4 linked regions of the Homo sapiens genome follow. The protein of the gene in region 4 purifies or fractionates together with the protein of the main gene of each other region. This does not show direct contact. Each region holds a gene or a part of one and is shown on either strand. Other genes may lie near its edges. The genes, in order: IPP, COLGALT2, P4HA2 and COL16A1.

Evidence for each region.
Region 1: the proteins of COL16A1 (region 4) and IPP purify together in Homo sapiens (affinity purification with mass spectrometry; one large-scale study listed by BioGRID and IntAct). This does not show direct contact.
Region 2: the proteins of COL16A1 (region 4) and COLGALT2 purify together in Homo sapiens (affinity purification with mass spectrometry; one large-scale study listed by BioGRID and IntAct). This does not show direct contact.
Region 3: the proteins of COL16A1 (region 4) and P4HA2 purify together in Homo sapiens (co-immunoprecipitation; one large-scale study listed by IntAct). This does not show direct contact.

What each region holds. Positions count from the first base shown.
Region 1 is NC_000001.11:45,742,582-45,750,626, forward strand, and holds part of IPP (actin-binding protein IPP), read right to left. Parts: 5' UTR 8,016-8,045; exon of another isoform or gene 7,925-8,015; intron 3,881-7,924; 5' UTR 3,831-3,880; coding exon 3,539-3,830; intron 1-3,538. UniProt on the Homo sapiens protein: May play a role in organizing the actin cytoskeleton.
Region 2 is NC_000001.11:183,974,603-183,982,647, forward strand, and holds part of COLGALT2 (procollagen galactosyltransferase 2), read right to left. Parts: intron 3,919-8,045; coding exon 3,808-3,918; intron 613-3,807; coding exon 495-612; intron 1-494. UniProt on the Homo sapiens protein: Beta-galactosyltransferase that transfers beta-galactose to hydroxylysine residues of collagen.
Region 3 is NC_000005.10:132,187,614-132,195,658, forward strand, and holds the end of P4HA2 (prolyl 4-hydroxylase subunit alpha-2 isoform 2 precursor), read right to left. Parts: intron 7,868-8,045; coding exon 7,799-7,867; intron 7,410-7,798; coding exon 7,313-7,409; intron 5,468-7,312; coding exon 5,397-5,467; 3' UTR 2,534-5,396; downstream 1-2,533. UniProt on the Homo sapiens protein: Catalyzes the post-translational formation of 4-hydroxyproline in -Xaa-Pro-Gly- sequences in collagens and other proteins.
Region 4 is NC_000001.11:31,698,319-31,706,970, forward strand, and holds the start of COL16A1 (collagen alpha-1(XVI) chain precursor), read right to left. Parts: upstream 5,700-8,652; 5' UTR 5,519-5,699; intron 3,910-5,518; 5' UTR 3,876-3,909; coding exon 3,803-3,875; intron 1,798-3,802; coding exon 1,723-1,797; intron 1,613-1,722; coding exon 1,495-1,612; intron 574-1,494; exon of another isoform or gene 432-573; intron 289-431; coding exon 165-288; intron 1-164. UniProt on the Homo sapiens protein: Involved in mediating cell attachment and inducing integrin-mediated cellular reactions, such as cell spreading and alterations in cell morphology.

The sequences.
Region 1 (8,045 bases), about 14 Mb from region 4:
GGAGTGCAGTGGCGCAATCTTGGCCCACTGCAACCTCTGCCTCCCACGCTCAGGTGAGCCTCCCACCTCAACCTCCCGAGTAGCTGGTACTACAGACACTCACCACCATGATCGGCTAATTTTCTGTGGTTTTTTTTTTAGAGACAGGGTTTTGCCGCATTGCCCAGGCTGATCTCAAACTCCTGGGCTCAAGCAATCCACCCACCTCAGCCTCCCAAAGTGCAGGGATTATACACAATGCTAGTTTTTAATATTAGGAATAACCAATAATCTATAACATAAGAGAAACTATTAAATACTTAACTACGTATACCACTTTCTTTTCCAAGGGCTTCACTTTCTTTTTTTTATTTTTTTATTTTTTTATTTTTTTCGAGACAGAGTCTCACTATGTCACCCAGGTTGGAGTATAGTGGTGCATCCTCGGCCCACTACAACCAACACCTCCTGGGTTCAAGTGATTTTCCTGCCTCAGCCTCCTAAGTAGCCAGGATTACAGATGCGCACCACCATAACCAGCTAATTTTTGTATTTTCAGTAGGGACGAGGTTTCACCATGTTGGTCAGGCTGGTCTCGAACTCCTGGCCTCAGGTGATCCACCCACCTCAGCCTCCCAAAGTGCTGGGATTACAGGCGTGAGCCACCACACCCATCTTTTTTTTTTTTTTTTTCTGAGACAGGCTCTTGCTCTGTTGCCCAGGCTAGAGTACAGTGGCATGGTCTCTGCTCACTGCAACCTCTGCCTCCCAGGTTCAAGCAATTCTCCTGGCTCAGCCTCCTGAGTAGCTGGGACTACAGGTGTGCGCCACTAAGCCCAGCAAGACTCCGCCTCAAAAAAAAAAAAATTAGCCAGGTGTGGTAGCATGTGCGCCTGTAGTCTCAGCTACTAGGGAGGCTGAGGTGGGAGGATTGCTTGAGCCTAGGAGTTTGAGACCAGTCTGGGCAACATAGCTAGACATAATCTCTACAAAAAAAATTTAAAAATTAGCCAGGCATGGTGGTGTGTGTTGTGGTCCTACAGGTACTCAGGAGGCTGAGGTGGGAGGATAGCTTGAGCCCTGGAGGTCAAGCTGCAATGATTTTGCCACTGCATTCCAGCGTGGGTGACAAAGCAAGACTCTGTCTCACAAAATAAAAAATAAAAGAGGCTGGGCACAGTGGCTCTCCCCTGTAATCCCAGAACTTTAGGAAGCTGAGGTGAGTGGATCACTTGAGGTCAGGAGTTTGAGACCAGCCGGGCCAACATGGTGAAAACCCGTCTCTACTAAAAAAAAAAATACAAAAATTAGCTGGGCATGTTAGTGCAAGCCTATAATCCCAGCTACTTGGGAGGCTGAAGCAGGAGAATCGCTTGAAACTGGGAGGCAGACGTTGCAGTGAGCCAAGATTGTGCCACTATACTCCAGCCTGGGCGACAAAGTGAAACCCCGTCACCAAAAAAAAAAAAAAGAGTAATATATATTCACTGTGGAAAAAGAACTTTAAGACAGAAAAACTAAAATGAAAAACATATTTTTCCATACACAGACATACATTGTATTAACACTGTAGTGTCTTTCTTCACATAGTTTTTCTCTCTCTCTTTTTGAGACAGTGTCTTGTTCTGTTGCCCAGGCTGGAGTGCAGTAGCATGATCATCACTCACTGAAGCCGCAGCATCCTGGGCTCAAGTGATCATCCCATCTCAGCCTTTCAAATCTTTTTTCTATGCATATTTATTGCATATCCTGTAAGACTATACATCGTTTTGGTGTGCCTTCTCTTTCTTTCCCCTTCCCCTACTCCCCTCTTCATCATTCCAGTTGTTTTATTTTATTCAGAGATGGGGTCTCACTCTGTCTCCCAGTCCAGGGTGCAGCAGCTTGATCATAGCTCACTGCAGCCTCAAACTCCTGGATCCTCCCACATCAGCCTCCCGTTAGCTGGGACTAAAGACACAAGCCACACACCCAGCTAATTAAAAAAAATTTTTTTTTGGCTAGGCGTAGTGGCTCACGCCTGCAATCCCAGTACTTTGGGAGGCCGAGGCAGGTGGATCACGAAGTCAAGAGATCGAGACCATCCTGGCCAACATGGTGAAACCCCGTCTATACTAAAAATATAAAAATTAGCTGGGCATGGTGGCACGTGCCTGTAGTCCCAGCTACTCGGGAGGCTGAGGCAGGAGAATCACTTGAACCTGGGAGGCGGAGGTTGCAGTGAGCCGAGACCACGCCACTACACTCCAGCCTGGTGACAGAGCGAGACTCTGTCTCAAAAAAAAAAAAAAATTTTTTTTTAGCCTGGGCAATGTAGTGAGACCCTGTCTCTACAAAAAATTTGTTTTACATTAGTCAGGCATGGTGGCACATACCTGTAGTCACAGCTATGCAGGGTGGTGAGATGGTAGCACTACTTGAGCCCAGGAGATTAAGGCTGCATTGAAGTGTGAGTGCACCACCACACTCCAGCCTAGACAACAGAGAGAGACCCTGTCTCAAACAAAATTTTTTTTGTTTTAGAAATGGGGTCTTGCTATGTTGTCCTGCATAGTCTTGAGCTCCTGGCCTCAAGCAATCCTCTCACATTGGCCTCCCGAAGTGCTGGGATTACAGGCATGAACCACTGTGCCCCTGTGTACATTCTCTAATGTTATTAAAACTCTTCAAAAACATTTAAGAGATAGTTTTGAGTAAAATAACATATGCTGATTATAAACACTTTGTGGAAAAAAATTACCTACAGATAAATGCTATCAAACATTCTGGCTGCTTTCTCATGTGTAAATACATATAAGTTTTTTTGGGTTGTGTTTCAAACAAAATAGGGGTTTATTTATATCCTGATTTTTAAAATTTTATATATTGTAAACATTCTTCCATAATAGTATACATATATTTTAAGATTTGTTAGATCTCATTTGTGAGATCTATACATGTATCATAATTTATTTAGCCATAAAACCTACTGAGACAAGATTTTATTCAATTATATACTACTATAAATAAAGTCACAGGCCAGGCGCAGTGGCTCACGCCTGTAATCCCAGCACTTTGGGAGGCCAAGGCGGGCGGATCATGAGGTCAGGAGATCGAGACAATCCTGGCTAACACAGTGAAATCCTGTCTCTACTAAAAATTAAAAAAAAAAAAAAATTAGCCAGGTGTGGTGGCATGCGCCTGTGTCCCAGCTACTCAGGAGGCTGAGGCAGGAGAATCGCTTGAACCTGGGAGGCAGAGGTTGCCATGAGCCAAGATCGCCCCACTGCACTCCAGCTTGGGCGACAGAGAGAGACTCCATCTCAAAAAAAGAATAAAATAAAATAATAATAATAATGTTACAATAAAATCCTGGTTTGTAAATATGTGCCTGCATCACTAATTAATTCCTTCAGATTCCTAGAAAAGGAGCACCGGGTCATAAGATATGAATTTTCAGTCACATAATAACATGTTGCTAAATTACCTTCTAGATAAGTTAGATCAATTTATATTTCCACATTAGTGCATGAGTGATTGAATCATTCTTCAGTCAAAGCAACAGACTCATGTAACATACCTGTGTAAATGAAATCTAGAAGTATCTGAAAGATTCCTGCTTCAATTCCTAGAATCGGTACAACATCTTTTGAGGACTCTTTCATTCCTCCAGTGAACAAAGCTGCAAAGTAAGGACTGCTGGCAGCCAAAACCAGCCGATGAGCTTTAAAACTTTCCTGTCCAACTTGCAGCTGCACATCACAGAAATGCTGTCCATTTCTCATCTTATTGATTTGGGCCAAGATGAGTTGGGCATGTTTATCTGATGAAAAAGGACTATCAGCAGCCTTGGGACAGTCCTCATTAGCCATGATGACGGTAGATTAATTAAAAGGACTGTTGCCCATAATCTGTTACTACCCTGAAAAACAAAATACAAAGAGATCAAGCAACAAAATTTTTTTAACATGCTTTCTATTCACACATAAGAAGCATTCTCTATACTTAAAATCTACTTAAGGACATAAAACAAATAAGGACTAAAGTGTGGTACTATTACTATTTCTAATATGGTTTCAGAGAATGAAATAAGTAGGGAAGCTAAAATAATTGGAGAATGCTTCACACAAGAAATGGGACCTGCACTAGAAACTGAAAGATAAACAGTTAATATTAAGGTATGAGGAGAGGACACTTCTTGATGGAGTAAAAAAAATAATAATAAAACACAAAGACAGAAAGTTAACAAAGCACACATCACAGAGCACACATCACAGACAACAGCAACTTTCGAAAAGCAGTTGTGATCAGTCTAACTGCTTAAAATCATTCAATGTGTACACTTCCCGTAGCACACAAAGCCCTTCGGGATTCTTGTTATAATTTAAGACTCTGTTCAAATATAACTTCCTCCAGGAACCTTTCCCCATTGCTCCTCTGGAATTGTGGAAATATGTTCCCAAACTCATCTGAGTTTGTTGCTCACCCTAAGCTTATTGGTTTTACATTCTATAGCACAGGTCTACCTTATCAAATACCCTACCACCCTACTCTTAGTGCGCGCATGCGCGCGCACACGAGCGCGCGCGCGCGCTTCAGAGCTCCTTGAAACACAGCCCTTTAAAGGCAGGTACTATCTTTCATAGCTTTAGCACCAGTATATAACATATGTTAGGTTTCCAATGTTTGTGAAATGAATGAGAACAAGGAGAAATAACAACAGCTTAGGTTGGGTTTTTTTTTTAACTTTTAACTTCTCCACATATTATGTCAATGGTAACTCTCACAATAATTAAGAGGTGAGAAGAAAAGATAATCTTATCTAAAATGAGAGAAAAGGAAACTGAAGCTCAAAGTTTCCCCAAGGATACAATGTTAGTATGACAGTCTCAGTATCTGAATCCAGGCCTTCTTACTCTAAATCCAGGACTGTTCCACCATATCACACTGCATAGGAATTATTAGGCCACCGGACACGTTCTAAATTACTTTTTAAATAAAGAAACTGCTGGGCACAGTGGCTCACGCCTGTAATCCCAGCACGTTGGGATGCTGAGGCGTGAGGATCACTTGAATCCAGGAGTTCGAGACCAACCTGACCAACATGACAAAACCCCGTCTCTTCTAAAAATATAAAAATTAGCCAGGCGTGGTGGATCAGGGCTATAATCCCAGCTACTTGGGAGGCTGAGGCACAAGAATCACCTGAGCCCAGGAGATGGAGGTTGCAGTGAGCTGAGATCACACCACTGCCCTCCGCTCTCCAGCCTGGGTAACAGAGCAAGACTCTGTCTCAAAAAAAAAAAAAAAAAAAAAAAAAAAAAAAAACCATGAGATCCTGTAATATAAGACATATGGAATAGCACAGGGAAATTTAAGATGACTAAGATTTTGTAATTTAGGTATCAATGACAATGGGTAATAAGACTTATAGTGTGGGCTGATGTTAGAAAAAAAATGGTTACGTTTATAGCATTTAAACTTATCAAAGTCAAAATAACAAGGCTGATTATCATCACTTTCTAGGAATTAACTTATTGAGAAATTTGATTGAGAGATTCGAAGGTAGCTGCTAAAACTTCATATCACCATCTACAGAATATCAACATATTACATATAACTAGCATATAATAGCAAGAAGTGTTTGAGGTGATGAATATGGTAATTACCCTGATTTGATAATTATACATTATATACATGTATCAAAATATCACACTGTACCTCATAAATGTAAATATAAAACAATTATTATGTGCCAATTTAAAAAATATCTATTTTGGGGGACAGGGTCTCACTCTGTCACCCAAATTGAAGTGAAAAATAAATTTTTTAAAGAGGGTGAAAGGGGCTGGGCACAGTGGCTCATACCTGTAAGCCCAGATTTTTAGGAGGCTGAGGCAGGCAGATCGCTTGAGTCCAGGAGTTTGAGACCAGTCTGGGCAACATGGCTAAACCCTGTCTCTACTAAAAATACAAAAAAATTAGCCAGGCATGATAGCACAGGCCTGTAGTCCCAGCTACTCAGGGGAGGCTGAGGTGGGAGGACCACCTGAGCCAGGGAAGTCCAGGCTGCAGTGAGCTGAGATGGTGCCACTGCACTCCAGCCTGGACAACAGAGCAAGACCGTGTCTCAACAACAACAACAACAAAAAGCAGGTGCGGTGACTCACGCCTTTAATCCCAGCACTTTGGAAGGCTGAGGCGGGTGGATCACCAGAGGTCAGGCGTTCAGGACCAGCCTGGCCAACATGGTGACCCCATCTCTACTAAAAAATACAAAAAATTACCCAGTCATGGTGGTGGGCGCCTGTAATCCCAGTGACGTGGGCGGCTGAGGCAGGAGAATCGCTTGAACCTGGGAGGCAGAGGTTGCAGTGAGTGGAGATGGAGCCACTGCATTCCAGCCTGGGCAACAGAGAGACTCCGTCTCAAAAAAAAAAAAGGAAAAAAAGGGGGTGGGGGCGGAGAAACCATGTATTTGGCCCTACACAGAAATGTGACCTGGAACTATTATCAACATGACATGACTGTCAGGCCTTTTCTGTTTTACATTTCTGTCAGCACATTTTGAACCCTAGTGGTTTAATTACAAGGTACCTCCTCTGTCCCCTACTTCAAGGCATCAAGCACAGCCACTGAGCTAAAATGCTGCCTCCTGCTACAAGAAAGAGTTGACTGAATATCCATTCGGGTGGCAGACAACAGAAATACTAGTCTGTTACCATGCTTCTCAGTAACTGCTGATACCATCCCACTGTCAGTGGAGTAGGAACGTCATCCCAAAAGGTGGCATGTGGAGTGACCATATTTCCAAAGGAAAAGAGCACAATTCTGTGACGTTGCATGCCTCACGTGCCCCAAACTTGAAAAGCAGATTGTTGACTGGGCAAGGTGGCTCACACCTATAACCCCAGCACTTTGGGATGTCCTGTCGGGAGGATCGCTTGATTTTTTGTTTTTTTTTTTTGTTTTGTTTTTGTTTTTTGTTTTTTTTTTTTTGAGACGGAGTCTCGCTCTGTCGCCCAGGCTGGAGTGCAGTGGCACGATCTCGGCTCACTGCAAGCTCCGCCTCCCGGGTTCACGCCATTCTCCTGCCTCAGCCTCCCGAGCAGCTGGGACTACAGGCGCCCGCCACCACGCCCGGCTAATTTTTTGCATTTTTAGTAGAGACGGGGTTTCACCGTGTTAGCCAGGATGGTCTCGATCTCCTGACCTCGTGATCCGCCCGCCTCGGCCTCCCAAAGTGCTGGGATTACAGGCGTGAGCCACCGCGCCCGGCCAGGGAGGATCGCTTGAGTCCTAGAGTTCAAGACCAGCCTGGGCAATACAGCGAGCCCCCCGCCGCAAAAAAAATTGTTTTAACATTAGCTGGCTGTGATGGGGCAAGCCTGTACTTCCGGCTACTTGGGAGGCTGAGGTGAGAGGATCGCTAGAGCCTGAGAAGTCGAGGCTGCAGTGAGTTGTGATCGCACCACTGCATTCCAGCCTAGGAGAAGGGGCGAGACTGTCTCAAAAAAAAAAGCAGATTATTAGGAAACGGTAGAAATGCCCAGAGGAACTAAAGCGGACCTATGTTTGCTGGCTTTGAATTCACTGCTGGGAACATGTGGAAACTGCTTCAGCAAAGGGGTGTCAGAAAGAATCCCCGGAACAAGTGTCAAAACACCCGTGGTTCTTTGTGCTTGAGTTGGGGGCCCGGCCTAGAGAGCTAGCCCTAAACTGCTGCTACACTAAAAGCTAATAATCGTTCCTGCGCTACCTAAAGGTCAGGGAAGGGATCTCAGACAAACGAGGCGACAACAGAGGGACTGGGGACACAGCCTCAGGATTCCCCAGTTGGGGCGGGGGAGGCAGGAGCGGTCCGGACGAGAAGGTCTGGGGAGGGCGACACTTAGACTGTCGGAGGAAGGCCTGCGGCGGCAGAAGGAAAGACAAGGAAATACACAGTTCTAGAGGCTTCTCTCACTCCAGTCCTCAGGGGTCCGGAAAGCCGGAGGGAGTAGAAGAGGAAGTTCCCAACCCCGTCACAGACGCGCCCGAACGCAGGCCCTCCTTACCCGCCGCTTCCCCTTCCCTCCGGCGCCCGC
Region 2 (8,045 bases), about 150 Mb from region 4:
GGGGATGGGGATGGACATAAATTCTCCAAAGAGAGCATCACTGTGCCAAGCAACAGATGCTACTCCCCAGATCATTCAGGAGCAAAAGGGAACCATTTCAGAGCTGTTCAGCTGAATCACTTTTTTAGATAATTACTTTTTCATATCCCCCAAATTCTTCCAAAAAGTTGTAAGAACAACTTACATTGCTTTACCTACAGCCTTTCCTGTGAGCTAAAAATATGCAGAGTTCTTATGCCTGTTGCATGGCAGAGACCAAATAATTCAGGCACTTCTTCACTTACCCACTGAAAATGCATGTGGGCCTGAAGATGAAGTCCAGGTAGCCCAATTTTAAACTACCAAAAATTTCATTGTGCCTTTCTTAAAAAGTGGGGGAGGCACTGCCTAATCAAAAAGGTTGTTTTGATTGCTTCCATGGTTCTAGTTTTTGGACGACTGATTTGGATACACCTGAGATGACAGTTGTCAAGAAATCAAACATCTGTTTTTACCAGAATGTAGTCTGACCATTTTTCCCTCGCAGTTCGAAGGGCTGCCTGTCGTAGTTTCATCACATGGGCAAACCGGGAGGTTGGCCAGTGCTTTGGTCCAATTTCATCAGGGTAAGACCTAAAATAATAATAATAGCTCATCATTATTGAGTGCCTACATGTACCAGGCTCTGTCCTAAATGTTTATATGTATTCATTTAATCTTCTATCAATCCCAGGAAGTAGATACTATTATTATTGTTATCATCATCCCCATATTACAGATGAGGAAACCGGAGCAATGAGAAGTCAAGTAACTCACTGCTCATTGTATACAAGAATCTTTACATGAAATATTTCAGTGGGTTCTAATGAGAGCCCTTTGAGGTGAGTACTGCTATTCTCTGCATTTCACAGGTGAGGATATCAGGGTAGAGCAGTTAAGTCATTCGTCCAATGTTACACAATGGGGCACAATCAAGATTTGAATCCAAGCAAAAAGCTCATGTTCCTAGACAATTTTTATACATCCCGACATCGAATAGATTTGGAGAGTATGCAGTGTAAAACATGAGTTTCCCAGGAAAATCAAAGGTTTAATCTACTTGTTGGAGTCTCCACAAATGATTCCACACAGCCTAACACATTGATCTATCTTAGGTAAAGTGAGGTCGTGGGATCTCTATCAAGATTCACAAAACAGCCAGGCCAAGACTCCTTCATGGCCACATAGGCAAGTGGGTTGGAGCACGCTCCAAAACCCTTCTGAAGGCACCCAGCTGGCACGGACATTGATACTGTTGCAGTAACCCAAAACTGGCCACCACTTCAAGATCTCATAGCTGCACTGGCAGTACATTTGTTTTAGTGAGTGAAAAACTGCAAAAACAATGAGACTGTAACTAAACAAATAAGGTTAATAAAACTATGTACAGCACAGGAATTCTCTGGAATATCTTCCCCAGTTATTGTTTCAATGAAAATCAGTGGAATTCTCATTTTTCTAAATATATTCCCCCCAAAAATGCCTGTTCTAATATTTTTTCACACTGACCTTGGCATATAATATATTTAGTCAAAACCTGGCTGCAGAGAACATTACCAAGGTGCAAAGAAGGGACACAAAGTATTTCTGTGCCATTTTTGTTAGGCCAAACTCCATTATAAGGCACTCTAAAGGAGTGTTTACAATCTTTTACGGTGTTCAGACTTCACTGTTAAATTTTGCTTGATATACAGTCCATGGGCTTGGATTTGAGAAACACATATGTATATATTATATCATATTTATATATATTTCTTTATAATATAAATATTTATAATAATTCTTACATATAGAAAGACTAGAAGAACAGAAACTTGTTCTGGAATGGCATTTATTATTACTATAATACAAATTTGGCTTTCAATAAATGACTTCTCTGGGGAAGAAATTCAGGCAACTCCTTCATTCTATTTCTACAGTTCCTTAAAGTAAAACTGTAGTAGCTTTGGGAACATTTATAATAGTAAGTTTTAAATACATTTATTCTTGTTCTTATTTGTTCATCCAACCAGTATTAATTTAGTGCCTGCCAAGAACATGGCTCTGAGGGGAGAGGGGGAATATAAAGTGTTTATATATTCTAGCCCCTGCCAAAGAACTTACAACTTATTTAGAAAAAAAATACATTAATTGCATAGGGGGAAAATGTTGGTTGCGTATATCATTGTGCCAAAAAGGATGACATAGAATATAAGCAATACAATTGTTGAGACAAAGGTAGATATTTATAACTGAGTGATTAAGAATAGGTTTCTATAGTAGGCATGATTTAGGATAAGAATTAGTTATAAAGAAGGAAAGGGTCTTCCAGGACCTGCACAAGCAACAGTGTGGGGTTTGGAAATAAAAGAAACGTTCTGGATAAAGCACATTTTCTTTTGGTGCTAAATTCATGGAATTTTAAAAATATAAGTCTTAGGTGTTTGAACTTTGTTCAGGTCCTAAAGAGTAAGTGAAGTATTTTTAATAAAGAAATGAAACCATTTCATTTGTATTTGAGGTAGATTGATTTGACTGTATGGTATGTAGGATGACTTGGAGATAGAAGCAATTAATAAATTGCTATGGTGGCCGGGCACGGTGGCTCACACCTGTAATCTCAGCACTTTGGGAGGTCAAGGCGGGCAGATCACAGGGTCAGGAGATCGAGACCATCCTGGCTAACATAGTGAAATCCCCTCTCTACTCAAAATACAAAAAAATAGCTGGGTGTGGTGGCACACACCTGTAGTCCCAGCTACTCGGGAGGCTGAGGCAGGAGAATTGCTTGAACCCAGGAGGCGGAGGTTGCAGTGAGCCAAGATTGCACCACTGCACTCCAGCCTGGGTGACATAGCAAGACTCTGTCTCAAAAAAAAAAAAAAAGAAAGAAATTGTTATGGTAACCAGGCACAAAGGCTCACACCTGTAATCCCAGCACTTTGGAAGGCCAAGGTGGGAGGATCGCTTGAGGCCAGGAGTTCAAGACCAGCCTGGACAACATGGTGAGATCATGTCTCTACAAAAAATAAAAATAAAATTAGCCAGGCATAGTGGTGCATGGCTGTGGTCTTAGCTACTCAGGAGGTTGAGTGAGGAGTATTGCCTGAACCCAGGAGTACGAGGTTACAGTGGAGCTATGGTCATGCCACTGTACTCCAGCTGGGGTGACAGAGTGAGACCCTGTCTTGAAAGAAAGAAGGAAAGAGAGAAAGAGAGAGAGAGAGAGAGAGAGAAAGAAGAGAAGAGAAGCGAAGAAAAGAAAAGAAAGAAAAGAAGGAAAAGAAAGAAAGAAGGAATTTCTATGGTTAAGATAGGAAATTACCTAAATGAGCATCAGTAGGGGATCAATTAAATAATTATGGTAAATGCACATACAACAGTGATTATGCAGTAAAAAAAATGAAAATTAGCTCCTTAACTATTGCTATAGAATGATTATCAAGATAAAAGTTGAAAAAAGCAAGCTCTATGTAGAAAGTATACACATTTTCAATATGATCCTCCAAATATAAAAGTTTGTTTAAAATATGAATAAATAATATCAATATTTAAAAATATAAACTGTCATGGCAATTTATTTATGAAGTAATGAAAATCTGAACTTGGCTGGCAGCTGTGGGAGTAAACAGCAAGAGAGTACTGTGAAGATCTCTAAAAGGGAGAAATGGCAGATATTCAGAACTCACATAGCTACAGAAATGAAAGACAATGAAAAGTCACATGTACCTCCAAACCTGGAAGCCCTAAAGAGCTAGTTAAAGAGGAAGGGTAAATAATGAGTTTACAAATTTCGCACTTGCTACTCACTCTGGTTCATCCATAGGCCTCCACTCCACATAGTGATAGAGTCTCTGTACATTTTTCAACCACTCCCTGAATATTTCTGTTGTATTATCCACATTGTGATCAGTGGCTGCCCTGCATGAGAGAAAGCACAATATAGTTTAACTATGTCATCCAATGAAAGAGAGGGAAATCCAAAAGACCCCTGACTAACTGAAAGAAGAATGGCTACTCCTGGAAAAAAAATTGTATATATGAAAATAATTCCCTCATAGTCCAAACTAGACAATAAATTTCCAAAGTGAGAGACACTGCTTAAAATCATCTTTGTGTCATTAGATCCTAAAACAGGGCTCAGCCAATTGGAGAACGTGTAAATGGTTGCATTAATAAATAAACACATGAAAACACCAAGAGAGTGTAAGCATAAAATGAATTAACTGAGAGTCAATTAATGAATCTTCTTGGAAATTTTTCTATATGTTTTAACTTTCAGTTACCCAGGATGTAAACTCCACCTTTTAACTTCATTAACAATGACCCTCAATTTGAGCAATAATTCTGCTTCATCTTCATTTCAAGTCAATTTTCTGACCGCAGCAAAATATCTAGTCAATGCTGCTTTAATCATTGTGAAGCTACAATAATAATTCTCAATATAAAACTCAAAATTTAAGGTATGTTCAATTATCTATTTTGGATTAACTTTACCATCACGTTTACAAAATAGAGTATTTTCCAAAGCCTTTAAATAATGTACACAAAACTTGTGCCTGTTCTACCCTGAAAGTTTAACAAATGGATCCACTTGTAAAAGGGCCTAACTCATTTATTTAAAAAGTATTTTCAAATTGTATCACAAAGCAAAACCCAACACATGTAAAACAGTTATTCAGAACACCTATAAATGAAGAGATAATGAAATGAAAAACAGAAAAAGAGAAGAAAGCAGGAGTTGTAATCCTGACAACAAACGAGGTAGAATTCAGGCCAAAGAGTATTAAGATGACAAAGAAGGAGACTTTATAATACTAAAGGAGGCCATTCACATCAAAATATACAAAGTATGAATATCTATACATTTTCATATATTACAGGGGTTGGCAAACTTTCTTTCAAGCGATAGATAGTAAACATTTTAGGTTTACAGGCCATATACTATCTGCAGCTACTACTTAACTCTGCCATGGTAGTGATAAATCAACCATAAACAATATGTAAATGAATGAGCATTGCTGTGTTCCAACAAAACTTTATTTACAAAAACAGGCAGTCTGTAGGCTATAATTTGCTGACCCCTAATATAGTAGAAAGTATAGAAACTGTAAAGAAAAACAGAAATAACAATAATAAGAGATATTAACATACCACTTTCAGTTAAAGATGGTACAAATGGGGAAACAAGTAAGTATATATAGGATCTGTACAACATACTAATAGAGACTTCTCAAGTGCACATGGAACATCTGCTAGCACTGACCAACAATTACATCCCAAAGAAAGCCTCCATAAAATTGAAATTATATAAACAACATTCTCTGATCTAAATGACATATACGTAGAAGTTGATAATAAAATAAAATCCCCCAAATCCACTAAAAACTCTCTTATAAAGTTGTTTTTTAAAAAATAACAATTACTAGTGGAAAAATAAATACAAACCAATTTCAGAACTTCCAAAAATTAATAATGAAAATACTACATATCAGAATTTTGGGATACAATTAAAGCAGTGATTAGAGAAAAATTCAGTTTTATATGCTTAAATAAATAAAAATAAATGAGTTAAATTTCTACTCAAAAAGCTAGGAAAAAAGCAACAAAGCAAACATATATAAAGAAATTAATAAAGATAAGGGTAGAAAGTTGTGAGATATAAAACAGAAAAAGAGTAGAAACAAACTAAAATGCTACTTCTTTGAGAAAGATCAATAAAAGACAAGCTGTAGTTAACCTACCTAAGACAAACAAATATAAAACAATAAGAAATGGTAAGGATGGGAAACAAGAAGATTGATTTGAAAGAAAAATTTTAAAAATGTGTAAGCAACTACTTTGTACAACTCGATGATAAATTTGAAAACTAAATATAATAGAAGATTTTCCAGAAAAATGCATGTTAGCAAAATTAACTCCTGAAGTGATATAAAGCTTAAATGAATAATTTCCAAGAAGAGAGTAAACAGGAAAAAAACCCCAACTAGGCTCATGTGTTTTTACAAGGGAATTCTACCAAATCCTACAATAGATACTTCCAATGCTATACAGCTTGTTATCCAGAGTGCAGGAAAAAAATGAAAATTCTAAGTTCTTCTAATATTGCAAGTATAATATTGATGTCTAAACCTTATAAAGATTTACACACACACACACACAGGCACACAACTACAGACCAATATCCTTTAATGCACATGCTGCAAAAATCTTAAATGAAGTATTAGCAAACAGAGTCCAACATCTTATTAAGAAAATATAGCATGGTCTAAGAATTTTCAATATGAAGGAATTTCACTAACATAATTCACTATGTTTATGGACCTGAAGAAAAATCATGATTATCTCTGTAAATGTGTAAAAGGTCTTTAACAAAATTCCACACCTAATCCTGGTTTTTAATAACCACACAGAATACAATTCAAGCAGATACTAAAAAAATAAGCCACTACAATTAAAACTGTGTGGTAATGACACAGGGATAAATGACATAGGGAGCCCAGTGGCACAGAACAGTAAGTACAGAAATTTAGTATATGATAAGGGTGTCGTAATATTCCCATGGAACAAACCTGCACATATACTCCCTGTATCTAAAATGAAAGTTGAAATTTAAAAATAAATAAAGTTTCATCAAAAATATATATGATATAATACAGTTTTGAAAAATGATCAGAGGTACACATGAAATAATTTAGCTTCTATTGCATCATTACTTTCACTGCTATTTGTAGGATGATTTAAAATAAATTGAAAGTAAATATAAATAAAGGCCAAGTGCGGTGGCTCATGCCCGCAATTGCAGCACTTTGGGAGGCCAAGGTGAGCAGATCATTTGAGGTCAGGAGTTTGAGACCAGCCTGATCTACATGGTGAAACCCGTCCCTACTAAAAAAAAAAAAAAACATTAGCTGGGTATGGTGGCACGTGCCTGTTAGTCCCAGCTACTTGGGAGGCTGAGGCAGGAGAATCGCTTGAACCTGCAAGGTGGAGATTGCAGTCAGCCGAGATCGGGCCACTGCACTGCAGCCTGGGTGATAGAGCGAGATGCTCTCTCAATAAATATAATAAATAAATAAAACACAAAAAACTCCTTTTCATTAAACATGAAACATTATAGTTTTTAATTGGTTTTAAATTGCCACTAAATATATTCAAAAAATTTTTTTTATCTCCTAAAATAATAATCTTTAAGAGAGGGAATGTTCAGGAATGTTCAAGAGAGAAAAATACATTGTTAAGCAAAGCACAGTGGAACTCTATTTAGATAGGGAATACATTTCTGTAAAATACCAAGAAACTTAAAACTATGTAACTTAAGCCATAGGGTGTAGAAAAATGGGACATAGAGGTATGTAAGTAATATTTGAAAATATTATCTTGTAAAATAGATACTTAAATTAAAACTAGCCTACTTAAAAACATTATCCAATAACTACAGATGACACCAATGGCCAACTTGATCTACTTTCAAGTGTCTTCTTGAAATTAGATGAGAACCAACTCTTCTCTTCTCGGCAAGGTCTAGGAGGGAGAACGACCCACAGGCCCACCTGGACATTCCATGGCCTGGAGAGGGAGAGAGGTGATGTGTGAATCTGACAGTTTTGAGGGATACCAGGTGAGCATGTTAGGACCAAGATGGGGTAGGAGGAGCCCTTAGCAACTCACAGAGGTGGGAAAGTGGTCCAGAAAGCAACGTGGAAGAAGGCCACAGGCTCCACTGAGTTTGTGATTGTGCCAAAAAGTGCAACGTCAGCAAAAGTCACATCCTTTGTGACTCATGGCCACAAGCTACCAACGTCCAGGGTACGCCATGAAGAGCGCAATGAGAGTCTAACCACTGGTCTCGTGATAGGAAGCATGCAGAGAGCAATTCCTGAAACTCAGAATTTACCATAAAGCACCTTATTCTTCACTTAAAACATTATGAAGAGGAGTAAGTTAAAACTAAGCAAAACAAAAATTCCTTATCACAGTGTTAGCCAAAAGCTATGAGATTTCTACATTATTCTTAAATTATTTATAAACGGCATAAGAGAATTTGC
Region 3 (8,045 bases), on a different chromosome or scaffold from region 4:
GATTGATAGGCAGACATCAACATATAATAAGATTCTTTAACGGCTGATTCCATGCTTAATGTCAGAAATGCTCAAGATGAGTGTGAAGCGTCTTGTTATACTAGGTAACAAAAGAAGATATGAAAGATAAGGTTTTCTGTATCAGTATAGGAAAAATGATTTTTTAAAAAATGAATAGGCCACTTCTACTTCCAAGATAGAGTAGCTTATGGTAGACCAATTTTCATTCCTAGAATAAAGCTGAATAAAATCTCTTAAAATTGTTGGAAGACATCAGTCAATTGCTGAAGCAAAAAGAGTTTGAGCATCAAGATCCTGAAGAAGGATAAATCTTGTGGGTGAGCCAAAAGTCTGTAGTCTCTTTTATCCTTAAACAATTTACTGGCCGGGCGTGGTGGCTCATGCCTATAATCCCAGCACTTTGGGAGGCCGAGGCGGACAGATCACGAGGTCAGGAGATTGAGACCATCCTGACTAACACAGTGAACCCCCATCTCTACTAAAAAATACAAAAAATTAGCCGGGCGTGGTGGTGGGCACCTGTAGTCCCGGCTACTCGGGAGGCTGAGGCAGGAGAATGGCGTGAACCCGGGAGGCGGAGCTTGCAGTGAGCCGAGATTGCACCACTGTACTCCAACCTGGGTGACAGAGCCAGACTCCACCTCAAAATAATAATAATAATAATAATAATAATAATTATTATTATTATTATTATTATTTACTGATTGTAGCCATGGGGTAAGAATGAGGATCCAGAGCAATGGGCAACTACTAAGAGGCAGAGAAACCAAAATAATTTTTGACAGTGTCAAGGGGCATTGAAAAACCAAAATTAGCCAGTAGTTTCTCAGAATATTGAATAAGAGGGAGGAGTGGAGAACTTGGCCACTCAGCCTGTTTACCCACTGAGGCATTTTCTGAATTCTGACGCTGTGCAGAATGCAAGGCTAAGAAGGTAAGCAAAAAATATCTGCTTAGATTCAAAAATTCAAATTCTTTGAAAAGGAGGATAAATTTTTTGGGCTGAGTCTGGTACTGAGAAGACAAGAATTAGAGTTGAGGAACTGCCAGTGGAAACAGATCCAGTGAACACACTAGGCTCTCAATTAGAAAATCCTGGAGGACTACATCCTATAAGGGGGGAAATAAGGGTAAACCAGAGATAGAGTCTTAAGAAAACTACCACCCAGTCTTAATTTTAAGTCAGCTCAGATCCTTACTGGATTAAGGTGATTGATCCCCACTCTGCATAGTAGAGGAAAGGGTGAGCCCTTTGTGCAGGAGGTTATCCATCCAGAGGCTCTACAATTTGTCATACACATTCAATCAAAAATTGCCAGGCATATCAACAGAGTGGACCAAATGACCAGAAACTAAGGAGGGAAAAAGACAATAGAAAGAGAGCCATAGAAAATCGAAATCATGGCGTTATCGGACAAAAAAATTCACATAACTGATTTATCAGTCCGAGAAAAACACAGAGAAAACAGAAGACAGATTCTCCAGAGAGTTAAAATCCATTAAAAGGACATGAATGGGCCAACCGTGGTGGCTCACGCCTGTAATCCCAACATTTTGGGAGGCTGAGGCAGGTGGATCACTTGAGGTCAGGAGTTTGCGACCAGCCTGGCCAACATGACAAAACCCCATCTCTACTAAAAATACAAAAATTAGCTGGGTGTGGTGGTGCGTGCCTCTAATCCCAACTACTTGGGAGGCTGAGGTGGGAAAATTGCTTTAATCTGGGAGACAGAGGGTGCAGTGAGCTGAGATCCCGCCACTGCACTCGAGCCTGGGTGACAGAGAAAGACTCCGTCTCAAGGAAAAAAAAAAAAAAAAAAGACATGAATGGATATTTTAGAACTGAGAAATATAAGAAAAATGAAATTAAGAACTCAGTAGATGGGTTTAGCAGCAAAAGTAATAAATGAATTGCAAGACAGATCAGTATAAAATATCTAGTCTGAAACACAAAGAAAAAAGCATGAGAGACACAAGAACTGGAGATATATAGAGCACTATGAAAAGTTCTAACATTCAGATTACTGAAGTCTCAGAGCAGATAGAGAAAAAATGGGACAGAAACAATAGTTGAAGATATAATGTCTGAGAAATTTCCAAAATTGATCAGACATCAACCCAGAAATTCAAGAAGCTAAATGCCAAGCAAGAAAAGAAAAAGAAACCCATACTAAGTACACCATAGTAAAACTACTGAAAACCAAAAAGAAAAAAATCTTTAAAGCAGCCAGGTGAAGGCAAAATCACCTTCAAAGGAACAACAAAGGACCAGATAGCGACTTTTCAACAGAAATGGTATAAGCCAGAAAACAAAGAATTACATCTTTAAAGTCCTTAAACAGACTCCTGTATGCACTTGATAGAAGACAGAATTAGTGAACTTTGTACAAAACAGCTATAAAGTTCTCCCCAAATATAGCATATATATAAAAATATGAAAGACAGATTAAGAGATAATATCATGATATGATCCAACTTACATTTAATCAGTTACAGAAGAAACAGACAATGCTGAAAGAAAAAATCATTTAATTTTCCACAATTGATTAAGGATACCATTGTACAAATTCAAGAATCCAAAAAAGTCTCAAACAGGAAAAGAAAAAACCTACAAACAAACCACCTAGTGTGCCAGTCACGTTTCTATTCTCAGCTGCAAGCTCATCCTTGTAGTCTCTACTGTTCTACTGTAGCTGCCACTCTGTAAACTACATTTCCCAGATTCCCTTATCAGCTGGCTTCCTGTTAGGGTCTACCAATGGAAGCCACTAGAGGGAGATTAGACGGCAGTAGATAGCAATTGCCCTAGACCCAGTGGTTTTTTGCATGAGACAATTTTATATATTAAGCCCCTGAGATTTAAGGATTATTACTACAGAAAAAGCCCATCCTATCCTAATAAAATATGCAAAAAATTAAAAGTAGAACTTTACACTTCATACCACGTATAAAGATAAACCTAAATGACAAAGACTATATAGCTTTCAGAAGAGAACACAGGAAACATCCTCATGATCTTGGGGTATAGAAGGATTTCTCAAATAAGACATAAAAAACATAAATCAAAAAGAAAAAGCTTGATAGATTTGACATAAAAATTAAAAGCTCCTGTTTATCAAAAGACAGAACTAAAATAGTGAAAAGACAAGCCACAGAAGATATTTGCAAAATATATAACAAAGAACTTGTGTACATATTTTAAAATTTGTATGAATAAGAACACTTGAAGAAACCTAATAACTAATAAACATGAAAAGTTGTTCAACATTATCAGTAATGTTCAAATAGACACTATACATGTACTGTCTTAGGTAGAGCTGCTATAATAAAATACCATACATTGAATTAAAAACATTTATTTCTCATGGTTATGGGAACTGGAAAGTCCGAGATCAAGATGCTAGTAGGTTTGTTTCTGGTAAGGGCCCCCTGGTTCATAGACAGGCATCTTCTTGCTGTGTGTTCGCATGGCAGAAAGAGGGCTGGGATCTCTTCATAAGGGCACTAATCCCACTCACGTGGGCTCCATGCTTACGACCTCCCAAGGGCTCCGCATCCTAATATCATCACATTGGGGGTTAAGATTTCAACATATGGGCCGGGCGCGGTGGCTCACGCCTGTAATCCCAGCACTTTGGGAGGCCGAGGCGGGCGGATCACGAGGTCAGGAGATCGAGACCATCCCGGCTAAAACGGTGAAACCCCGTCTCTACTAAAAATACAAAAAATTAGCCGGGCGTAGTGGCGGGCGCCTGTAGTCCCAGCTACTTGGGAGGCTGAGGCAGGAGAATGGCGTGAACCCGGGAGGCGGAGCTTGCAGTGAGCCGAGATCCCGCCACTGCACTCCAGCCTGGGCGACAGAGCGAGACTCCGTCTCAAAAAAAAAAAAAAAAAAAAAGATTTCAACATATGAATCTGGTGGGGGGACACAAACATTTAGTCCGTAACATGTACCAAGCTAGCTAAAATTCAAAAGTATGAAAATACTAAATACTGGAAAAGATTGGGGTAATAACTCTCATTTACTCCTGGTGAGAATGTGTATAACCACCTTGGAATACATTATTTAGTAAAGTTGGAACACCATTAAGACTCCACATTTCCACTCCTAGATATATATCCTACAGAAATATGTGTTTATATGTGCACCAGGAATCATGTATAAAAATGTTTATCACAGCATTATTCACAATATACAAAGACTGAAATCAATTCCAGTGTTTATCAGCAGCATGCTGCCTGTATTATGGTACAGTCCTACAATAAGCATTAACAAAACTGAATGTACTATAAAGATTAAAACAAATTACAGCTACACAAGCAACACGGATGAATCTTAAAACAATGTTGAACAAAAGAAGCCACATACCCAAAAATATTTACTCTCATTCTATTAGTAAAAGTTCAAAATCAGGGAAAACAGAATAACTACTTATTTAGGGATCTAATCATAGATGGTAAAACTATAAAGACAAGCAAAGGAATGAGTACCACACATCATGAGACAATGATTTATCTCCAAAGTGCTGGGGGCAGTGAAGGAGATGTGATCTAGGAGGGGTTCCCAAGGGGCTCCTGAGGTACTGACTTGAAAACGTTCTCTTTTCTAACTTGGTGTTGACACAGGTGCTCCTGCTCACCTTCATATTTTTTTAAGTATACATCTGTGTATCATGAACAATTCTTATCTCAAAATTTAAAAATGAAGTACACATTATAACAGCATTACAATCATGAACACATGTGCTATGTTCTCTGGGAGACAAAGAGAAACTATTTACCCTACTTTCCAGAAAAGGACACTGACACTTAGAGGGAACACAAGTGTTGAAACCAGGTCTGAAATCCAAGACCCAAGATGCTTTTTTGCTGCTAAAGCATTCATTATCCAGACTCTGCCTGCATGAAGGTGATGCATAGGAAATGATGAACCTGGTAAAAGCTTCCAGTCTTAAAAATACTCCAAGTAAGGCTCTTTAAGGCTTCTGGTAGGGACATTTTATTTTTTGGTAAAGCCACAATAGATAGAAATGCCATAAAAACAAACATGTAAACAAGGTATCAGAACTTTGGTTCACTGAAACATCTCACACCTAAAACACCTGAGGTACAAAGGCACCTTGCTAGGCGCTAGACAGCTAACTCTGCTGCAGCCACTTTGATCCTAGCCTTGGGGCCAGGGATGGCACAGGCTGAATGGAAGGGCTGGGACTTCAGTCACACAGGAGTCGCCCTAGTATGGTCTCCCTCTGCTCCAGACAAACATTCATTTCTCCAAAAATCAGCCTGATAGGAACATACAAAGGAACATACAAAGGTGTCTGTCACGTTGACATGGGCTGAAGGACCAGGAAGGGGAAGGACAGAAAAGGATGTCAGTCAACTTCTGTTGATCCACAAGGTCTCAAGAACTCCTGTCCTCGTTCATGGAACCACTTATTGGAGACTGTGAAAAGAAAGCAAGCATGTTACAATCCTATTGGTCAGTTTAGTAGCCTGAATGAATGACTCCTTCATGATGACCCCCTGCACTGTGCCCTGGAATCAGACACAAATAAGACAAGACATGATCTCAGGCCTCAATTTGCTGAAGAATTGGTAAGGAAGACACATGTAAACAGATAATTGTATGAAATTCTGCCAGTGGGACAAGATACATGTGTGCAGGTTGCCATGGGAATAGCACCCAAGGGCATCTAATCATGCCCTTTCATGCCCATGACCTTTGATGCCCTTTGGCTCTATTCCCATGGCAACCTGCACACATGTTTCTTGCTCTTAGAGGGAAGAGGAAATCCTAGGGCTAGAATATAAAGCTACATAGAAGTTATCCTGGGAAGAAGATGGGCATACCCAGATGGTTCTCTCACCAAGAGGGTCCCAGGAGTGACAACAGGATGAGAAAGTAATCAAGGCAGAAGCCACCCTGACGTGTGTTGGGGACTCAAGAGGCCTAATATTACTGGGAGGTGGCAGGTAGAAACTGAGAGGTAGGGTGTGAGGATGAGGAAGACTGTCAGCATTGCAGAGGGCTTGGACATTAACCTCAGGAGCCGTGGACCAGCAGATCCAGTCTGTATGCCATGGGCACAAGAGCAACAGAGCTGCTGCCAGCACTATCACCCCACGCCATATCTTCAAACACACAGGAACCATGATTCTGTTCCTCACAGACTCTCTCATAATGAATAAAAATTTTATTTCAATGCACTACTGAAGTCACAGAGCTTTTAAAATATAAAGTAATAACATGTACTTCATTGAAAAAAATAAAATTGTCGCAAGGCTTATAATGATAAATAGCACTCCTCCTAAGCCTCTCCTTCCCATCCCTAATCTCCACTCCCAGGGAACATTAAACTCCTCTAGCTGTTTCTTCTGATATTTAACCTCATTTTTCTAGATAAGATGCTTATAGTTCTATTCCTTGACTTTCAACTTTGGAATTCTTTTATTCTACCCCTAAAACACAAACTCATCCCCTCCCACCTTTCCAGTACAGGTAAATCATAAGTTTTAGTTAAAGTAATACTCAGTGTGTACATAATTATATCATGTGTTACACCTGAGCCATCTAGTAGATTATACTTACATTTCCTTTCTTGTACAACTTTTTTTCCCCTGAATTCAGCAACTGCCTTGTTTTCTTTTCCATTTGCTTAATTATCTGCAAACCTATCACTATTTATCTTCAAAACTCTCCAAGGGGGCTACACACTCATCTCCTTACAAACACTTCCTGTCATATCCTGGTTTGAGCCTCTCCGAGGCTCACCACAACTGCTCCCAGGATAAGGCTCAAGCTTGAGCCTCTGCAGTTTGGTCCCAGCCTCCAGCCTCATCTTCTGGCCCCTGTGCCACAGGCCTCCCTTTCTTCAAGTGACAAGGGAGCCAGCCCCCACACCCGTATGCTGGTTTTAGCCTGTGCCTCCATCCATATGGGCCTTGTTTGCCTGAGACACTCTTTCCCCTCACTGCTTCCAGCTCTCCACTCTGCTCCCTCAGAAGCCTTGCCAGAGGGTCCTGGACCTATGGTGCTTATGCAGCTATTCGTCCTCAGGCCTTCTTCAGCTTCCTGTGTATCTCTGAGTGTTTCCAACCAGCTGCCTTGGCATTTACCAGCTGCATGGACATTACATGGCTGGATGGTAATAACAGCAGAAAAAAACCTAAGAAGGGAGACAGTCTCAGCAAATTTGGCAGCAGTTGCCTCCCAGCTCAGAATCTAAGGCCAATAAGCAAAGCCCAAGCTGAGGCCACCAACACCAACACTACCCCTTAAGACACTCACCCCACTTGCAGCCCACAAGCACAGGGCAGGCAGCATGTCTTGTTCGGTAGTCACCTTCCCCGCTCCGCAAGAGGTTGTACCAGAACACAGCTGTACCCTGGGAAAGAGATGGCCTTTCAGAACACATTCTTAAGAGACTGTGCTCAGGGACCTGACTGCAAGCATCACAGAAGCTCTGCCCTGAGCAGAAACACCCTCATTTTCCCATGGACAGGGGATAGGGCTCTGGGACTCCAGCAACAGAGACATTTCCCAGAAAGCACCTACCTTTCTGAGGTAGAAGTCTGGGAACTCACCCGCCCCTGAAGGGACTTCCCTCCCTGTCCTTTCTTCACAGGGAGAAGCTGGGCTACCAGGTCAGACCCCAGGTGGGCTAAGGCACATCACAGTGACAATCAGGCAGGCCAGGTAATGGTACTGGGGGACATGGACAAAGTAAAGTCTGAGCCTTGCTTCAACCTCTGACCCACAAGAATCAGAACTTACCTTCTTAGGCCAAATTGCAGCCCCCAGATCAGGGAAGACGGTGGCACCACCAGCTTCTACATCACTCATCTGGAAATATAAGACATAGAGCTTGACCCTCCTACCCAAGGCTCTCAGAGCAATTGAGCCACAAAGGACATGACAAGGTATATAGATTGCCCTCCTCTCAGCATGAGTGACACTACTTGGTGTCTGCTCCATGGCCAGCCCTTTAGCCAAGAAAGGCTCTTCCCATGCCTACTTAACC
Region 4 (8,652 bases):
CATCCTGAAAGAATGAGGTAGGTACTGGTGGGCTGGGGACAGGCTTGAGGGTAGGCACAGGATGGAGCAGGGAGACCCCAGAAGTCACAAGCCGGGATGAAAGGTGGGCTGGACTGGTGCTACCCAATGCCCTAAGAGGCAATCAGGGCACAGGGGAGGTTCACCTGTGGATACCCATTTGCATCGGTCACTTGAAACAGATACCACGTCTTCTGGTGGGTGTGTTTCTTCAGCAGTAGTGTCAGCACCAGGGCAAACTCCTCCGGGAGACCCCGAGGGAATACTCTTCTGGAGATGGAGCAGGGAGGGTGCCCTGAGGCTCCAATGAGGACCCAAATGCTGCCCACCCTGAGCCCTCAGGACTGCTGAGCCTACCCAAGACATCCACAGGCACACATCTTCCATCATATACATTCATTCACTCTCCATACCTTTACTGAGTGCCTTCCGCGAGCTAGGTGCGGGTCTGGCTGCTGGGAATAACAGTGGTGAAGGCTGGGTGCGGTGGCTCATGCCTGTAATCCCAGCACTTTGGGAGGCCGAGGTGGGCGGATCACCTGAGGCCAGGAGTTGGAGACCAGCCTGGGCAGCATGGTGAAACACCGTCTCTACTAAAAATACAAAAAATTCGCCAGGTGTAGTGGCAGGCGCCTGTAATCCCAGCTACCCGGGAGGCTGAGGCAGGAGAATTGCTTGAACCCAGGAGGTGGAGGTTGCAGTGAGCCAAGATCACGCCACTGCACTCCAGCCTGGGCAACAGAGCAAGACTTGGTCTCAAAAAGAAAACCAACCAACCAACCAAACAAACAAACAAACAAAAAACCCACATACACAGTGGTGAAAATACAGAGGCACTGCCTGCCTTCATGGAGCCTTCACGTCTGATGGGGGCAGGGAGGCCATGAGCAAAGAATCCCCAGAATGACTATTTCGCTATCGCATTGCAATTTGAATAAGTGCTTCCAATGAACCCAGAATACCCTAGGTGAATAACTGGAGCAAGGGTGGAAGGAGAGATACTGAAAAAAAGATGGAAAGGGTTCAGCATGACCAGAGCAGCAAGAGATAAAAAAGAGCATTTTGAGAGCTGAGGTTGAAGAGGCAAGCAGGGGCCAGGCCAGGGCTTGTGGGAATTTGGACTTCACACACATGGGTGCACACACACGCATGTGCGCACACACACACATGCACACACGCACATGACTCTTGCCAGGTTCCCGCCCACATCCTGTGTTCTCACAGTGCCCACAGGATGCAGACCTGTTCCCACCCACTGCTGGCCAGAGACAGGGGAAAGACAGAAGGTAGGTCTGCCAGGTACCACCTCTCAGCCCACCCTGCAAGCCCAGGGGTGGAGACCAGGTTGACTCCTGGCAGGGGCTGGGATGCAATGACCCACAGACAGGCCCCTGGGCTTAAGCCCCACATCTGGAGTTGCTGAGGAGTGTGGCTGAGGTCAGTGTTGATTCTCAGTGGTCACATGGATGCATTTACCGCGTGGGCTGGGTCACGGGGGCCGCCCCCAGGCGCAGGATGAGAGGCCCCTTGGGGTTGCGGATCTTCTTGATGGCAGACGTCTTCATGAGGCTGAGTCGGTGGATGAGGTTGAAGCCTTTGGGGGAGACATCAGGTGAAGAGCTCAGCTGAGCAGGTGGAGAGGGGTACAGATCACTCCCAGAGGAAGGTTGCAGGGACGGCGCGATGAGATGGTTGGGTGCTCACCAGTCACGTTGGCTGGCAGGCTACTACTGTGTTCCAATTTGAGTCCTTCCTGCTGTGAAGGTGGGCATTGTGCACCTAGAAGAGAAGGGGCAGGGGGGCATTAGGTGCGCTCAGGCCAAGGTTGCTGCACGGCTGGACGCCTGGGGAACCTGGGAGGGAGCAAGTTTATAGTCCTCACTCTGGACCATCAGCTAGATCCTGCCTTCACCACCTGCCTTCTGACCCTGGCTCCCCAGGAAGCCTGGAGGCCCCCAACCCAGCATACAGTTTGGAAGACTGAGGTCCAGAGACTGAGGCCCAGGCCAAGGTCACTAAGTGAGCCAACAGCAGAGCAGGCCCAGAACTCCAGGAACCCAAATCTCCCAGCACTCCAAGTCAGGAGCTAGGCCAGCAAGGGAGAGAATACACGAAGCTCTAGGTGGCTCTCGAGCACAGATGGAGTGGGGAGCTGTGTATTTACACATGTGCCCCCTCCATGACATACACCCAGGTGGGGGGCAGAGGAGCTCTTCAGGGGTAAGGAAATGTCAGAATCATGCACATTGTGTGTTATGTACAATTATATGTACGTGTCTGTACATGTGGGAGTTGTAGGTGCCCATGCCACGAGGGATGACATGTGCAGCTGGCACACGTGTTCTCAGCAATAGGAACGTCCTACATCCAAATCAGACAAGCAGGCCAGACACAAGTAGGAGCCAACAGAATGAATATTTACCTGAATAACCACCTTGTGAAACAGCGAGAAGAGACTGAGGGTCTGAGGGGACCACAAGCTCAAGGGTACCACCAGGGCCTTGGAGCTCCAGGAAGGGCATATTAATGGGTTAGGGCTCCCAGAGAAGGAGATAGCTTAACTCAGGTTTCCAAAGCCCTGAAAGAACAGGTGGGCAGCCATGGGCCTCCCTCGCCCTGGGGCTGACTGAGCAGAAGTGTTGGGGGAGGTGCTACAACAGGAAAGACAGAGGCCAGAATCAAAAAGGCCTTCTCATCAATGCAGAGGGATAGGTGGGAGAAGACGGTGAAGACAGCTCCTAGAAGCTGGCCTTGCACTCTCTGGCTAGACTGGCTGGAAGAAGGAATCCTGGGGCCCTGGGGCCCGGTGCCAATGACCCCACTGCACTCTCCCTCCCCCAGGTCTGGTCAGAAAGACCATCACTGTCTTCAGCATCACAGCAGCAATGGGTGACTCACCCCTTGGCAATGGGCCCAGATTCCTTACAGATGTTGAAATTATCTGCCCCATCCCCCCCAGGGGACCCAGTGAGGGAGAGGAGAGCAAAGCTCACGCACACACAAGCAGAAACACATATGTGCACATACAAGGGGCAGGCGGCCACACTCACCCTGGGTCCACAATCCCTTTCACCTCAGCTTCTTGGTTTTTCTGCTTTTCCTAGCTGGGTTTGGGTCCTAGGAGTTCTGTTCCTGCTTGGCGAAGCAGCTGAGCTACTGAGCCCAGAGGGCACCCAGCAAGGCCAGGCAAGTTGCCCGGTCAACTTCCCCTGGCTTTGGGCCCTGGAAAGCTGCACCCTCTGTCTCATCCAGAGTCTGGGCCTCGGGGTGGGCCTTTTATTAGAGATTCAGGGCCAGCCGTGGAGGAGGAGAAGCACGTGAGCTAGAGGGATGGAGTCTCCACCATGAAAAGGATCAGCAGGACTTGGGGTTCTCTGGGGAGGCGGCGTCCTTCTGCAGGGAGAGCTCACTGCCTGTTCCTCCCCACCCCACTGGTCCTACCAGCAATGTGTCCACAGGATTGGCTTACGTATTGGGGTGGGAGGTTGTTCTCTTACACACAGAGACACAGGAATACATACGAATGCACAAAGCCAGTCTGAGAGACAAACACAGAGATGCTCAGAGACATAAACGTACGAAGACACAGGCACACACACTCTCCAGCTCACTGCACACAGGCTCAAGGGTGCCAACACCTCAGATCACCCTGAGCCCAGCCCCTAGACTCTGCTATAACTGCCCACACGACCACACATACATGGTCACATATGTGCAAGGACCCCAGCACCCCAGGATACCAGTTGCAGGCCTGTGATACTGTGACTCTCCTGTGTCATCTCACCTGTATTTGCCCCATGGCCGAAGGTAGCCCAAAGACCGAGCAGCCACAGGCCAGGAGCCCAGGATACCCACATCCCGGTCCAAAGAGGTCAGCTACAGCCACAGCACCTGAAAACCACAGAGACCGGGAAGGCGGATTTCTGAGTTCACACAGCACAACTCCACACGTGGGCAAGTCGTGGACAGCCTGTGGGGCCCAGGCACTGGTATTGGGGTGGCAGGAGGTCTGGCCAGGCATCAGTCTCTCTCAGAGGCCCAACCACAGCCCTTGGGCTAGGATTTGAGCAGAGGCGATATTCAAAATATTTAACCACCGGTATGGCACGGATACCAGCTTTCAGGCAAAGCAGAAAGCTGCCTACTGCACTGAAATAGTGTCCAGGCAGCATCTGGCTGTGCCAGTGGATACTTGCTGGATTGGGAGAGGTCTAGAAGGTCTTAGAAGGCCAGAGAAGTTGGAATAGTGATGAGGGCTTAAAGAAGAGGCTATTCTTCAAGACACGTGGAAGTATTTCAAGTCTAGCATCTTGTGCACTGTCCTGGTATATATACCAGCCTGATACCTTACTAGCGCACCCAGCTCAGCCCAGGAAGCCCTCCCAGGCACCCACAGGGTCAGGGGCTGGTGACTGGGCTGAGATTGTGGGCCACAGCCTTCCATAGGGCTGTGTGGGGGCCAAGGAAGCTTTCCCCATAGGTATAGTGGGCAGGAGAGCAGGTCTCTAGGGCTCAGGACCTCATTGCCAGCCACCCCCGCCCCCAGCTGATGGATGCTTGTCTTTTAGTTTTATTAAACCCTGATGGATGGGCCCAGATAAATCGATGCAGGCTCAGCAAGTGGCCAGCAGAGCCATACATCGTCTGGCCTCCCCCAGGACAGGCAGCTCACGTGCACAAACACAGAGCCATGCATGTGTCAGCACAGCACATGCAGATGCGCAGGTACATGTACATAAGGACACATATGTGGTACCAGTGTGCATACAAAGCTATCTGCACACAGGCATGCTCACGGAAACATATGCTCGCTGATATACCCAGACACACCAGCTTGCATATACCCACATGCGCACAGCCAGCCTATGACCACTCCTCCTGTAGGTCTTCCTGTTGGGAAGTTCTAATGCAAGTCTGACTGCATTCCTTCCAACTCTAATGAAATCCAATTTTCCTTCCCTCAATCATGGATAGGAAATGAAAACAGAAAGGACCCCTTACCCCAATATATTTGGAGATAGGACTCCAGCCCCCTTCTCCCTGGGACAGAACTGTGCCCCCAGCCTGCCTATTCATCCCCCATCCTAGTGATATACACATCCCAGCTCTCAAACCCTATCCTGGTCTTCCTCCTGCCAGCCAATAGAAGGGCTGCCAGCTGTGGCGCCATGTGGGTGCATGTGGAGGCGTGAGGATGGATGTGATCCTGTCCCCTTCCGGCTCCTAGTCTCTGGTCGCCACTCCTCAGGCTCCAGCCAGAGTGCAGGGCTGCAAGGACAGAGCCAGAGAAGCTTCCAAGGAGACGGCTCACCCCAACACAGAGGCATAGATTTGGGCGCAGGGAGTCAGAACCAGGATGGAGTTTAGAGCTCATCTCGCTCTAGAGAAGACGACCAAGGCCCAGAGAGGGAATGCCACTTTCCTCAGGTCACACAGCAAGTCTGGCAGAAAGGGCCTCTCAGCCCAGAGCCCTGAGGCCGCCCACTGTATCCCTACTTACCGGTGGCCGGGGATCCCCCCACCTCACTGAGCAGTCCAGGCAGCAGGCGGAGGAAGCAGAGCCCAGGTTCCTCAGGTCCGCTAGGGGTTCTCTATCTCTCCGTGACGGTCACGGGTCCCCAGCTTCCTGGCGCTCGAGCTCTCCCGGCTGTCTGCTGCCCGGCGCACGCCTGCCGGGGACTGCCGGCCACTCCGGGTGGGGGAAGAGAGGCGGTTCCAGGGGGCTGGGGGCCTGCCAGGGACACTAATGGAACACAGCTGGACCGGCCCGCCAGGGAGGAGGAGGAGGAGGGCCTAGAGGGGGCTCCAGCGGCACCAGAGGCGGCTAGACTGCGGGGTGCACAGCCCCGCCCCGGGTCTGGCCGAGCTCCCAGGCCCGCCCCTCCTGCCTCACCGCCAGGTGAGCGATCCTCGAGCTAGGCGGGACCCTACGTGCCCAGAGCTGCCCTGGAAGGGGGCTCCTGCGGGCCCTTTAAGAGTCAGGCCTGGAGTTTGAAGAGCTCCCCCTTTCCATGTCCCTGGCTGGGCCCCCAGAAGGCTGCGGGGTGGGGGGGCGGGGAGGGGACAGGGGTGGAGGGAGCAGGGTAGAGACCCTCCTCCCAAGTGCGTGGCACCCATGATGTGGCTGCCGCCCAAGCCTCGGTGGTCAGCTTTTTCCAATTCCTCTGCCTAACATTCCCAGTCAGTCTGTCCCTAGGTCTGTCTGTACTGGGAGGAGGAGGGTGGGAACCCCCTCCCTCCTCCGTGCTAAATTAACCCCCTCTGCTCTGGCCTGACTCCCAGAGAAGTGAGACTGAGGGAGTCCCCTTATTCCTCCTTACTCCATGAGGTTGGAAGGGCTCAAATCCCTGGCCCCTGCTCTGGCTTTGCGGTTCCAAATGTGCTGTGTAACCATACTCCGTTTTCTCATCTGGAAGATGGGATCGTGAGAGTATATGCCTCATAGACCTTTGCTGTAAGCAGGAAATGGGCCAAAGGCTGTAAGCGCTTAGCACACGGTCTGGCACATGAGAGGAGCTCAGTAAATATTTGCTGCTATTATCGTTATTACTGTGATCCCTGGCAGGGGACGGGACTGGATTTCAAGCCTTTACACCAGCACTGGGGAGGGACCTGCTTTATATTCACGGTCCAAGGACGCAAGAGGAATTGAGCTGGGCTGAAAGATTGGAGCTCTGAGGAGGAAGGAGCCGGTAATGTTCCGAGTTCTGCCCAGAGGCAGGGCCGTTGACCAAGGTGGAATCCCCACCAAGGGTCTCCTCCCGCTGTAGACCGAAAGCAAATTTATTGGCACCAAGGCTGAGGATCCACAAAGTAGGTTCAAGAGGCCATGAGATGCTGGGCTGAAGAGGGAGAAACTGAGCGTCCCCAGTTGAGGGGGGCTCTGGGGGCTCTGTGGAAGCAACGCGCCTAGCCCTGTGGCCTCGGCTAACCCGGGGTAGGGGGAGGTTGTAGGGGCAGGCCTGGGATTTCCCGCCTCCAGACCCAGAGGCGCTGAGTCAGCGGAAACCCCAACCACGCCACAGAGGCGCCCCACTGTGGTCCCAGTGAGGAGCTGGCCCCAGATGTGGCTGTGGCAGTGGTGGGGCCTGGGAAGTGCTGAGCTCAGCAGGCGGGAAGCGGAGGGGGTGGGGCCTTCTGAGCACTCTGGCCTGCGGGGTGGGTGGGCACAGGCCCCGCCTGCCCTACCAGAGGGTGCTGCCCCAGCAGTGGGCACTCGGGAGAGGTGGGAAGCGCATATAGGTCAGGCTCTGTGCTGAGAACTTCACATATGCTAACTCCTTCGATCTTTACAACAACGCCTTAAGGCAGAATTCCATTTTTATTCCCAAACCTGCAGCACAGGAAAAACACAACTTGCCCGGGATCCCACAGCTAGTCAGTGGTGGAGCAGAACTCATGTCCAGCCAGCCTAGACTCAGCACGTGCTCTTAACCACCATGCCATCCTGACAGCTCCCACCCGTGCCCCAGACAGGGCAGGTGGCTGGGCCAGGGATGGAGGAACCTGAGAAGGGAGAGCCAGATGCCTTCCCACAGCACCCCAAGGGTGCTCACAGGAACAGCCAAGCCTGGGACACACCTTACGCCTAGAAACACTATCATAGACAGTCTAGGAATGTGCCCATGCCCCTTCCTCCCTTCCACACATACGTGCACACATCCAGAAACACGCAGTCAGGTAAAGTTCTAGCACAGCACTTGAGTACGCAGACTCCATATGCATGTATAGGCACTCATGTTCACACAGACACACCCTGGCCCTAGAAACAGTTACACACAGATGTGTAGAGACTCAAGATACGCCTCCACATCAAAGATACACAGAAACACATGTAAGAGCCCAGATTACCCCACAGAAATATATCCCTGGACATATCCAAACACAGGTACATAATTCTCAGAATGCCTGCATACAGCACTGTATATACTCGAATGTGCACACACAGACACATGCCTGTACACATAGACATGTGTGCACATAAACATACATGTGACCACAGGCATAATTACTCAGATATGCAAGCAGAGAAGCCTGCAGACCTGCAGCACATACATGTGTGCACACAGACATAGATGGCCACACAGACTCGGCTCCCAGAGAAACAGCCACTGGGACATGCACACACTGACACATGTACACACATGCATACATGCAGCTGTGCTGACACTTTTACATGCAGTCAGTGCCAGAAAGCCCTGCACGCCAGCAACCCGGGTATCCCGTGAGGCTGGGCTCAGCGCCCTCACCCCAGATGGCATCACCACGAGGTAATCAATGCTGCTAATCACCACCAGCTGCCCTGGAGCCTGCATGCTGCTGCTGCATGGGGCTACCAAGGCCTTCTGGACCTGGGGTAGTATGCCCAGATGTTGGCAGTGCCCAAGGGCCCTCCGCCCCCCACTGGGGAATCCCTGTCTGGCAGGGGCAGCCCCTGGGGCTGGGGCAGGTTGAAGAGCCAACCCAGGGCCTGGTCCCAGGACAGGTCCGGGAGCCCCCACGCGTTCAAGCAGAGATGGTGTAAAGTTCTGAGGCTTGAACAGTGGACCAGAACCCCCACATGTACACGTGCACACCTGGGCCCTGGCATATGCGCATACGGGCTCACACGCAGACACATCACACATGATTGAT